3 linked regions of the Homo sapiens genome follow. The protein of the gene in region 1 interacts with the protein of each later gene in a pairwise test. Each region holds a gene or a part of one and is shown on either strand. Other genes may lie near its edges.

What was found.
Region 2: the proteins of ZNF79 (region 1) and KRTAP6-3 interact in a two-hybrid assay, tested with the Homo sapiens proteins (one large-scale study listed by BioGRID).
Region 3: the proteins of ZNF79 (region 1) and YJU2B interact in binary tests that used the Homo sapiens proteins (3 or more experiments, as listed by UniProt).

Annotation. Positions count from the first base shown.
Region 1 is NC_000009.12:127,422,949-127,427,181, forward strand, and holds the start of ZNF79 (zinc finger protein 79), read left to right. Parts: upstream 1-1,433; 5' UTR 1,434-1,839; coding exon 1,840-1,855; exon of another isoform or gene 1,856-1,962; intron 1,963-4,233. UniProt on the Homo sapiens protein: May be involved in transcriptional regulation.
Region 2 is NC_000021.9:30,591,077-30,593,623, forward strand, and holds KRTAP6-3 (keratin-associated protein 6-3), read left to right. Parts: upstream 1-1,363; 5' UTR 1,364-1,390; coding exon 1,391-1,702; 3' UTR 1,703-1,979; downstream 1,980-2,547.
Region 3 is NC_000019.10:13,750,761-13,754,491, forward strand, and holds part of YJU2B (probable splicing factor YJU2B), read left to right. Parts: intron 1-847; 5' UTR 848-1,048; coding exon 1,049-1,051; intron 1,052-3,528; coding exon 3,529-3,582; intron 3,583-3,731. UniProt on the Homo sapiens protein: May be involved in mRNA splicing.

The sequences.
Region 1 (4,233 bases):
CTTCCATCTGGTTTTCTAATCCTGCTGTGGTCAGCAGAATACCACCCCCCAAAGATATACATGTCCTAATCCCCGGAACCTCTGAATATGTTAGGTTACATGACAAAAGGGAATAAAATTGCAAATGGAATTAAGGTTGCTAATCAGCTGGCCTTAACGATTCTCCTCAATTAGCTGGGTGAGCCCAGTGTTAACCATGAGGGTCCTTAAAAGTGGAAGAGGGCTGCGGAGGAGAGAGAACCATACAGAGGGCAGCAATGGACGGACTCTGGCTGAGGTTGCTACTTTGAAGTTGGAAGAAGGGGCTGCGAGTCAAGGATGCAGGCAGCCTCTGGAAGTTGGAAAAGGCAAGAAAAGATTCTCCCCTGGAACCTCCAGAAGGAATGCAGCACTGTCGACACCTTGATTTTAGCCCAGTGAGACCCACTTCAGACTTCTTACAAAACTGTAAGCCCCAAACTACAGCTGCCCAATATAGAGAAGGGCTAGCTCAAAGACATTTGTGAGTGTGGCTTCTCCGATGGAGCCAATCCCATTAAGATTCATAGGAAGACCCACAAAATTAAGAAACTTACACTGGCAAAAATGCCACCGGCTGTGATTGAAAGGGAAAGAGACAAGACAAAATGAAAAGGAGCCTTAGAATCCCCATACTCACTTATTTCCTGGGTAACCCAGTCCCCTCCCCTTAACGACAAAATGCCTATAAAAAGGAGCTGATCATCGAAAAATTGCTTAAGAAGTAATTTCCAAAGGGCTCGAGGGAAAGTCCATTGAAACATCCCCAGCCTGCAGCAGGGAAGCCCTTAAGGAACACAGGATTCAGGAATCTCCTCCCGCAGAAGTGCTGATCAAACACTGCCCCTGAAATGACTGAAGCAGTTCCCGCCGGCCGATAGGTTTTTATACTTTGAGGGTCCCAGGCCACCCACTCACGGCTGTCCTGTTCAGACTGAGGGACTTCTGATTTCCTTTAGTCTTCCCAAACTTTTAGTACGGCTCAAGAGGACCCTGAGAGTGGCTGGTGATTGCCCTGAGTGGAAGGCCAACGAGGGACAGGCGTACCGTGCGCAGAGAGCTGCGGAGAGGAAACCAAGCGCCTAGCGCCAGCGAAGATCGGCGCCCCTGTAAGCCCAGCATTCCCAGAATCCTTCGCGGCTAAATCTCTTCTTTTCCTCGAGGCTCCATTTCGTTGGATTCTGGTGGACTTTAAAGACGTGTGCAACAAAAAAGCACGATGGATAATAGATTCCGGGAGCAAGCACAGGCGGAAGCCTCTCTGGGAAGTACAATCCCTGAGCGTGTGTGTATCATAAACCGGGCTGCAGGAATGAAAAAGACTTTGGCCAGAAACAGAGCCCCGCGGCGACTTCTGGGAAATGGAGTCCGGTGTGGCCGCCGCGGGGCATGTGCGCATGACCGGAAGTGGCGCCAATCAGGCGCGTCCCTCTGGCGCTGGAGCCAGGACCTGGCGTTGGGCGGTACTTGGACAGCGGTTCTTGAGCTCTCGCGGTTGCCGGTAGATTGTTGCCAGTTGCCAGTTGCCAGTCGTTTTTCGGAAAGCTGGCAGCGGCTTTTTCACCGGGTTCTGCTTGAGGCCGAGCCAAAGAGTGGCTGTGACTCGGGAGACGGAGTGGAACACCCGGCTGGGCAGGCCCGGACAGCTCCCGCGACCCAGCACCGCAGGATCAGACCGTGCCTCTGCGGGGAGAGGCTGGAGAGGAAGAGTCCGGCCTGGGAGCCGTCAGAGCAGCCCTGCAGAACGGGGTGGGGGCTGCTGTAGATAGACCCTTACGCCCAGAGAACTGCTGGGAGGCTGTGGCGCGAGGCGGGACTCAAATGCTGGAGGAAGGAGGTGAGGAGTGGTAGAGGGAGCGATTGTCAAGAGATCGGCTGCTGCTTCGTTTGCCCACGACTGCCGCTGTGTGAGCCGAATCAGAACTCTCTTTATCTCTCCTACAGGTAGTTGGAGACAATCATTTTTTCTTTCTTTGCCCATGACACAGCCCCAGGAGATCCTGAGAACATGTGCCCCTACAGTCCTTTTTTGAGTAAAGAATTCGGGGGTCAAAAAAGTTTGAGGACCTCAGACTGCGTGATTTCTGAGTATTGTACCACGTACCCCAGTCTGCCCAGATGGACCAATGACAGTGGAGAGTAGGGAGAAGTGGGTTCCTGGGGACTCCTCTGTCACTTTTCTCCTTCTAGCCCTTCTCGAAGCAGCCAGGAATGCCTGGAAGCCCGGGAAAGTTTGGGGGCAGGCCAGCCCAGTAGGATTGTGAAGTTGTGGAGGACAGGGGAATTTGCAGTTAGAAGGCACAGGTTCTTGTGAAAGCTGTGAGGTACCAGCCAGGTCTCTTAACCTGTATTTCTCCATGGAAGAAAGGACAAAATAATGTTAACTACTTTGTTTACCTCTGAGAATTGTAATTCTCAAATGAAATAACACTTTTGAAAGCACCCTGAATGTGGTACAGAACAAATGTGTAAGCAGGCAACCTCTTTTAAGTCTTAACCACCAACACCTCTGCTGTTCACCCCTAGATCAACTGTATTTGGTCTTTTACTCTACAAGTGCAATTTTACATCCAGAATTTGGTGCTGTCCCCAAGATCAAGAGGTCCTTGTATTTGTTTTTTTTTGTTTGTTTTGTTTTGTTTTTGAGACAGAGTCTCGCTCTGTCGCCGAGGCTGGAGTGCAGTGGCGCAATCTCAGCTCACTGCAACCTCCGCCTCCCAGGTTCAAGCGATTCTCCTGCCTCAGCCTCCTGAGTAGCTGGGACTACAGGTGCCCGACACCAAGTCCAGCTAATTTTTGTATTTTTAGTAGAGACGGGGTTTCACCATGTTGGCCAAGCTGGCCTCAAACTCCTGACCTCAAGTGATCCACTGGCTTCGGCATCCCAAAGTGCTGGGATTACAGGCGTGAGCCACTGCTCCTGGCCAAGAGATCCTTATATTTGGTCTTGCACTTGAAGAGTAGAGAGTGCAATTTCACATCCAGTATTTTGTGTTATCTTCCCCAGACACCTGGGAAAGCAGAGCAGATGGGTCGTCATCTTCCCCATACTGCAAAACAGGAAAGGAAGTGCTGTCAGGTTAGATAACTCTCAGTAACAGAAGGTCTGTCCTAAGATCAGGATCCAGATCTATTTATTTATTTTATTCAGATATCATTCACATACCATAATATTCACCCTTTTAAAGTGAACAATTCAGTGGTTTTTAGTATTTTCACAAAGTCTTGCAACCATCACTATTTAATTCCAGAACATTTTTGTTATCTGAAGAAGAAACCCCATAGCCTGTAGCAGTGACTCCCCAGTCCCTCATTTCTCCACAAGTCACTGGCAACCACTAATCTGCTTTCTGTCACTATGGATTTGCCTAGGACATTTCAAATAAGTGGACTCATAATATGTGACTTTTTTTTTTTTTTTTTTTGAGACGGAGTTTTGCTCTTGTTGCCCAGGCTGGAGTGCGATGGTGCGATCTCAGCTCACCGCAACCTCCGCCTCCCGCGTTCAAGTGATTCTCCTGCCTCAGCCTCCCGAGTAGTTGGGATTACAGGCACCCGCCACCACACCCAGCTAATTTTTTGTATTTTTAGTAGACACAGGGTTTCACTGTGTTGGCCAGGCTGGTCTTGAACGCCTGACCTCAGGCAATCCACCTGCCAATATGTGACCTTTTGTGTCTCGCTTAGCACATCATTTTCAGGGTTCATCCAGGTTATAGCATGCGTCAGTACTTCATCCCTTTTTGTGGTAGAATGATATTCCATTGTATGGAGAGATCACATTTTGTGTATCCATTCTTCAGTGAATTTTTGTGTGTGTGTATGTTTGATTTCTCTTGGGCATATACTTAGAAGTGGAATTACTGCGTCATACAACCCTCTTTGACTTTCACAGGAACTGCTGAACTTTTTCCACTGTGGCGGCATCATTTTCTATTCTCAGCAGTGTATGAGGTTTCCAGTTTCCTTACATCCTCATCAACACTTGTTATTCTCCATCTTGTTTATTATAGTCATGTTAGTAGGTGTGATGTGTTCTCTCATTGTGGTTTTCATTTGCTTTTCCCCAATGACTAATGATGTTCAGTTTCATGTAGGGAGTGGCTATTTGTATCTCTTGCTTGGAGAAATATCTGTTCAAATCTTTTGCCCATTTAAGAATTTAGTAGGGCCAGGCACAGTGGCTCACACCTGTAATCCCAGCACTTTGGGAGG
Region 2 (2,547 bases), on another chromosome or scaffold:
TCCTCTCCTGACACATAATATTCACATATTTTACCTTCTTTTTATATTTAATGAATTTGCTTATTTTAAAATATATTAATTCCAAATTTCCAAAAGTATTGTAAAAATACTTTTCATCTTCTAGCAGAATTCCTGTTACTATTTTTTAAAGTGGTGACTTGGATAGAATAACATCAGCAAACCACATTTCTGGCCCAAATGCATTCTGGTGATAGCCTTAATTATGAGAGCTGACTTTCTATGAAGCTCCCTGTGATAATTTGTCACGTTTATTCCATCCACTTATTAAATATTATTAATGAATTATTAGTCATTTATTATGATAAAGCAATTAGAATAAAATATAAACAAATAATAGTACATATTAATTCATTTGCTACTCTTAAATGTAGCAGAACTACCAATGATCAACCTAGGGATCATACTTTGTAGATCAATGTGAGACTGGCAAAGTATCATATCAATAAGAGGCAAGTAGAACATTTAGTCAGAATTTCGGAACTGCACACAGTAGTTCATAAACTTTAGTGGATATATACCACCACCTTAACAATCGGAAAAGGCATGGATTCTCAAACCAGAAAAAAATCACCATGATAAATTCCTCCACTGGTTTGCATATGATCCAAAAGGATCCCAGAGTACATGAATTTATCCCCAGTTACCCCAAGCATAGAACAAAGATTGTGATTATTCTACACAGAATTTGAGTATAGAAAGTTGCATCATGTCATTCATTTGGTTATTTTTTCACTAATTCATCAAATCTTTATTAAGAATCTGCTGTATCAGGCACCGTTATAAGAAATGCAGATTGAGCAGATGAACAAAATAGACAAAGTCTCTACTTTCTGCAGGTTACAATGAGACAGAAGGGATAGAGAGACTGATTTTAAAAATGAATGAAATAGATTCTAACAGTGAAGAATCCTGTGAGAATAATAAAACTCAGTGAGTTACATTAAGTTCAGTTACTGGAGGTAGACTAATTAATATAAGGTGGCCATTAAAAGTCTCTCTGGGAAGTGAACATTTCAATTGAAATAGAAAATGAGTCAAATATTCCTGGTATTATTTTAAGAAAGAGAAATCAGTAAGTGCAGAGGCCAGGGCCTTATTGTGAGAAGAAACCTGCTGCATTTTAAAAGACAAAAAGCCAGCAGAGTTTGAGCATTATAGATAAATGGAGGAGAGTAGCAGGATATGAAATCAGAGAGATACGTAAGGGCCAGAACTTCTCAGCACAATGAAAGGCCTTTAGAGATATTTTTGCAGGGGCACGCTATGTTCTGATTCACTGAGGCATATAAAAGGCCCTCTGCGGAGAAGTGTCCATACTGAAGTCACCTACACTCCTTCCTACCCAAGGATGACCTCAACAACCAACACCATGTGTGGCAGCTACTACAGAAACTACAATGGTGGCCATGGCTATGGGTGCTGTGGCTACGGAGGCCTGGGCTGTGGTTATGGCGGCTGTGGCTATGGGTGCTGTGGCTACGGAGGCCTGGGCTTTGGCTATGGAGGCCTGGACTGTGGCTATGGAGGCCTGGGCTGTGGCTATGGCTCCTTCTGTGGCTGTGGCTACAGAGGCCTGGACTGTGGCTATGGCTGTGGCTATGGCTATGTCTCCCACTCCTTCTGTGGCTGTGGCTATAGGTGCGGCTCTGGCTATGGCTCCAGCTTTGGCTACTACTATTGAGGACACCATGGGAGACTCTCACCCTCTATCCTGTGACATTGCAATTCACCAATTCTGAAGCCCACATGCTCTGAGCCTTTCCCTTGATTGATGATATCCTGCAGTGGAAGTCTAATATGATCTGTTGTTGATCTACCATCTAACCCAAAAATACCCTGAGTTTCCATCATGAAGTGGGATAAGGTGAAGTTCACCTGTCACTTCTCCTTTTATCAGGATGATGGTGTCACAGTGACTCCTTTGATGACTTTCATGCTGTAGTTTGTTTCTCTGCTGACCTAATAAACACATTTAATCCACAAGAGAAATCTTGGTGTTTGTATCTTATTTATTGTCCAAAATTTTTTTCTTTGATTTTTTGCTTTTATCGTTATTTTTTTCAACTCTTATTTTAGGTTCAAGGGTTATATGTGTATATTTGTTACATGGGTGAATTGCATGCCACTGAGGTAATATGTGAAAGGTAGTTTTTCAACCCTTACCACCCCCCACCATCCCCACTCCAAGAGTCCCAGTGTCTATTGCTTTCATGTTTATATACATGTGCACTCAATTTTTAGCTCCTACTTATAAGTGAAAACCTGTGGTATTTGATTTTCTGTTCCTGCATTAATGTGCTTAGGATAATCACCTCCAGCTGCATCCATGGTGCTGCAAAGAATATGATTTCCACTCTTTGTTGTGGCTACATAGTATTCCATGGTGCACATGAAACACATTATCTTTTGTCAACTATTGTTAGACATCTGGGTTGATTCCATGTCTTTGCTCTTGTGAATAGCACAGCGATGAACAGACAAGTGCATGTTTCTTTTTGGTAGAACAATTTTTTTTTCTTTGGGTAT
Region 3 (3,731 bases), on another chromosome or scaffold:
CTGAGGCATGACATCACTTAAACCCAGGAGGCAGAGATAGTGAGCCAAGATCATGCCACCCCACTCCAGCCTGGGTGATAGAGTGAGACTCCGTCTCAAAAAAAAAAAAAAAAAAAAAAAGCCTGTAACAAAGAGCTTGCAAACCTGAGGAACAGCAGGTGCAGGCCAGCTGCACTTGGCCTTTGAAGACAGCCAGGAAGCCAGTGTGGCTGGAACAGAGTGAACGAGAGATAGAGGGGTAAGAGTTAGGCTTGGAGAGGCAGGCAGGGGCCCCACAGGCCGTGGGAAGGGGTTTGACTTGATTCTAAAAACCATATGAATCATGGGAGGGGTTTAAGCAGGAGAGTGACACGTTTGTTCATATTAAAAGATCCCAGCTGGGCATGGTGGCTCACACCTGTAATGCCAGCACTTTGGGAGGTTGGGGCGGGTGGATCATGAGGTAAAGAGATCAAGACCATCCTGGGCAACATGGTGAAACCCTGTCTCTATTAAAAATACAAAATTAGCTGGGTGTGGTGGCGCACGCTTGTAGTCCCAGCTACTCGGGAGACTGAGGCAGGAGAATCACTTGAACCCAGGAGGTGGAGGTTGCAGTGAGCAGAGATCGCGCCACTGCACTCCAGCCTGGTGACAGAGCGAGACTCCATCTCAAAAAACAAAAAGATCCCCTGGGCAGCTGTGGGGTGAGCAAGTGTCAAGGGCAGAGTCGGGAGAGAGAAGACCGTGCTGGCCCACGTGAGTGATGATGGGTGCTGGACCCGGTGGGGGCCACAGAGGGATGAAAGTGTCAGATGTGATGCGTATATTGGCTGTAGAGTGGACGGGACTCTCTCTTTCTAAACAGACACGCCGCTTTTTGGATGCCTCCTATGCCTGGCGGGAGTCTTGTCTGAGCTGGCACCACCACACGGCCCACGACATCTTCGCAGGGAAGCCTGTGGACCCTCTGCCAGGCTCCACAAGAGGTCAGGACAGTGCAGTGTGTTCACAAGGCCAGTTTCTGATCGTCCGCCCCGAGGCTGAGGACCAGTAGGCAGCTCCCAAGATGGTGAGTAGACAGCCTCGTGTGCCCTGGGTTTCTCTCCCAGTCTTTGTAGGACCCTGGAAGCAGCCCCTCCTCCCCTCCCAGAGCTCTAAGATGATGATTTCAATCTCCGGGTCATCATCTTTTGGTGCAGTGGGTCTGAAATGTGGCTTTGCGCTAACATCACCCATGGGCACTTTTTAAATGTTTTTTTGTTTCATTTTCTTTTGTTTTTGAGACAGTCTCACTTTGTTGCCTAGGCTGGAGTGCAGTGGCACGCTCTCGGCTCACTGCAACCTCCGCCTTCTGGGTTCAAGCAAGCACGTCCCACTAATTTTTGTATTTTTAGTAGAGACGGGGTTTTGCCATGTTGGTCAGGCTGGTCTGAAACTCCTGACCTCAAGTGATCCACTACACTCAACCTAAATTTCCCCTTCCCCCTTTCCCCTCCCCCTCCCCTACCCCTTCCTTTCTCTTTCTTTCTTTCATTTTTTTTTAACAAGGTGAAATTCATATAACATAAAATTAACCATTGCAAGGCCAGGCACAGTGGCTCACGCCTGTAATACCAGCAGTTTGGGAGGCCAAGGCAGGCAAATCATTTAAGATTAGGAGTTTGAGACCAGCCTGGCCAACATGGCGAAACCCTGTCTCTACTAAAAATACAAAAATTAGGCTGGGCGCGGTGGCTCACGCCTGTAATCCCAGCACTTTGCGAGGTTGAGCTGGGTGGATCACCTGAGGTCAGGAGTTTGAGACTACCCTGGCCAACGTGGTGAAACCCCGTCTCTACTAAAAATACAAAAATTAGCCAGGCGTGTTGGCGGGAGCCTGTAGTCCCAGCCACTCTGGAGGGTGAGGCAGGAGAATCGCTTGAACCCGGGAGGTGGAGGTTGCAGTGGGCTGAGAACATGCCACCACACTCCAGCCTGGGCAACGAAAGCGAAACTCCATCTCAAAAAAAAAAATACAAAAATTAGTTGGATGTGGTAGCACATTCCTGTAGTCCCTGCTACTCAGGAGGCTAAGGCACGAGGATTGCTTGAACTCAGGAGGCAGAGGTTGCAGTGAGCCAAGATTGCACCACTGCACCCAAGCCTGCGTGACAGAGCAAGACTCTGTCTCAAAAAAAAAAAAGAAGAAAACAAGAGCGACTCTTCAGCCAGGCTCAGTGTTCTTTCTTGAGACCTGTGTTCAACGGTACTACATGTGTATCTGCCCAGTGGCAATGTTAAATACTTCTTACCGTCAATCACAGTCTCCAAAAGAGTGTGAAAGCCACCATAGGAGCATCTGAACCTCATGGAATTTTCCAAAGCAATGACAATGGGTTTTTTGCCCAAGTAGCCCTTCCCCAATCAGACACTGAGCCCAGCACTGTCCTCTAAAATGTCCCCAAGTCCCCCTTATCCAGGTCCTGCCCCCTGAGGCTGCACAAGTAGGTTTCCTGGAGGGAGCCTGTGTATTAGTCCAGTCTCACGCTGCTCATAAAGACATACCCAAGGGCTGGGCGCGGTGGCTCACGCCTGTAATCCCAGCACTTTGGGAGGTCGAGGTAGGTGGGTCACAAGGTCAGGAGTTCAAGACCAGCCTGGCCAATATGGTGAAACTTTGTCTGTACTAAAAATACAAAAAAATTAGCTGGGCGTAGTGGCACATGCCTGTAATCCCAGCTACTCGGGAGGCTGAGGCAGGAGAATTGCTTGAATCCGGGAGGCGGAGGTTGCAGTGAGATGAGATCGCACCATTGCACTCCAGCCTGGGCAACAAGAGTGAAACTCTGTCTCAAAAAAAAAAAAAAAAAAAAAAAAGACATACTCAAGCCTGGGTAATTTATAAAGGAAAGAGGTTTAATTGACTCACAGTTCAGCATGGCTGGGGAGGCCTCAGGAAACTTAACAATCATGGCAGAAGGGGAAGCAAACACATCCTTCTTCACGTGGCAGCAGCAAGAATGAGCAAGAGGAAAAGCTCCTTGTAAAACCATGAGGTCTCTCGAGAACTCATTCGCTGTCATGAGAACAGCATGATTCGCCCCCATGATTCGATTCAGTTACCTCCCACCAGGTCCCTCCCATGACACGTGGGGATTATGGGAACTACAATTCAAGATGAGATTTCGCCTGTAATCCCAGCACTTTGGGAGGCTGAGGTGGGTGCATCACTTGATGTCAGGAGTTCAAGACCAGCCTGGCCAACATGGTGAAACCCCATCTCTACTAAAAATACAAAAAATTAGCTGGGCGTGGTGGTGCATGCCTGTAATCCTAGCTACTCAGGAGGCTGAGGCAGGAGAATCGCCTGAACTCGGGAAACGGAGGTTACAGTGAGTCAAGATCGCACCACTGCACTCCAGCATGGGTGACAGAGCAAGACTCCATCTCTAAAAATTAATAGTAAAATAAAAAATCAGAAAAAATTTTTTTGAATGAGATTTGGGTAGGGACACAGCCAAACCATATCAGCCTCTCTCTGAGTCATGTCTCTGTTCTGCTTTGCAGGGTGAAAGGAAAGGGGTCAACAAGTACTATCCTCCAGACTTCAACCCTGAGAAGGTAAGCAGGCTCTCCGCTCCAGGTCCACAGTAGCAAAAAGACCCACGTCATCCCCTCTTGGGGTTAGAGCCACTGCTGCGGAAGGATGGGTGGCCCCCAAGGTCTTTTTGTCTTCTGCATGTCACCTGAGTCTCGAGGCTGTCTTCACT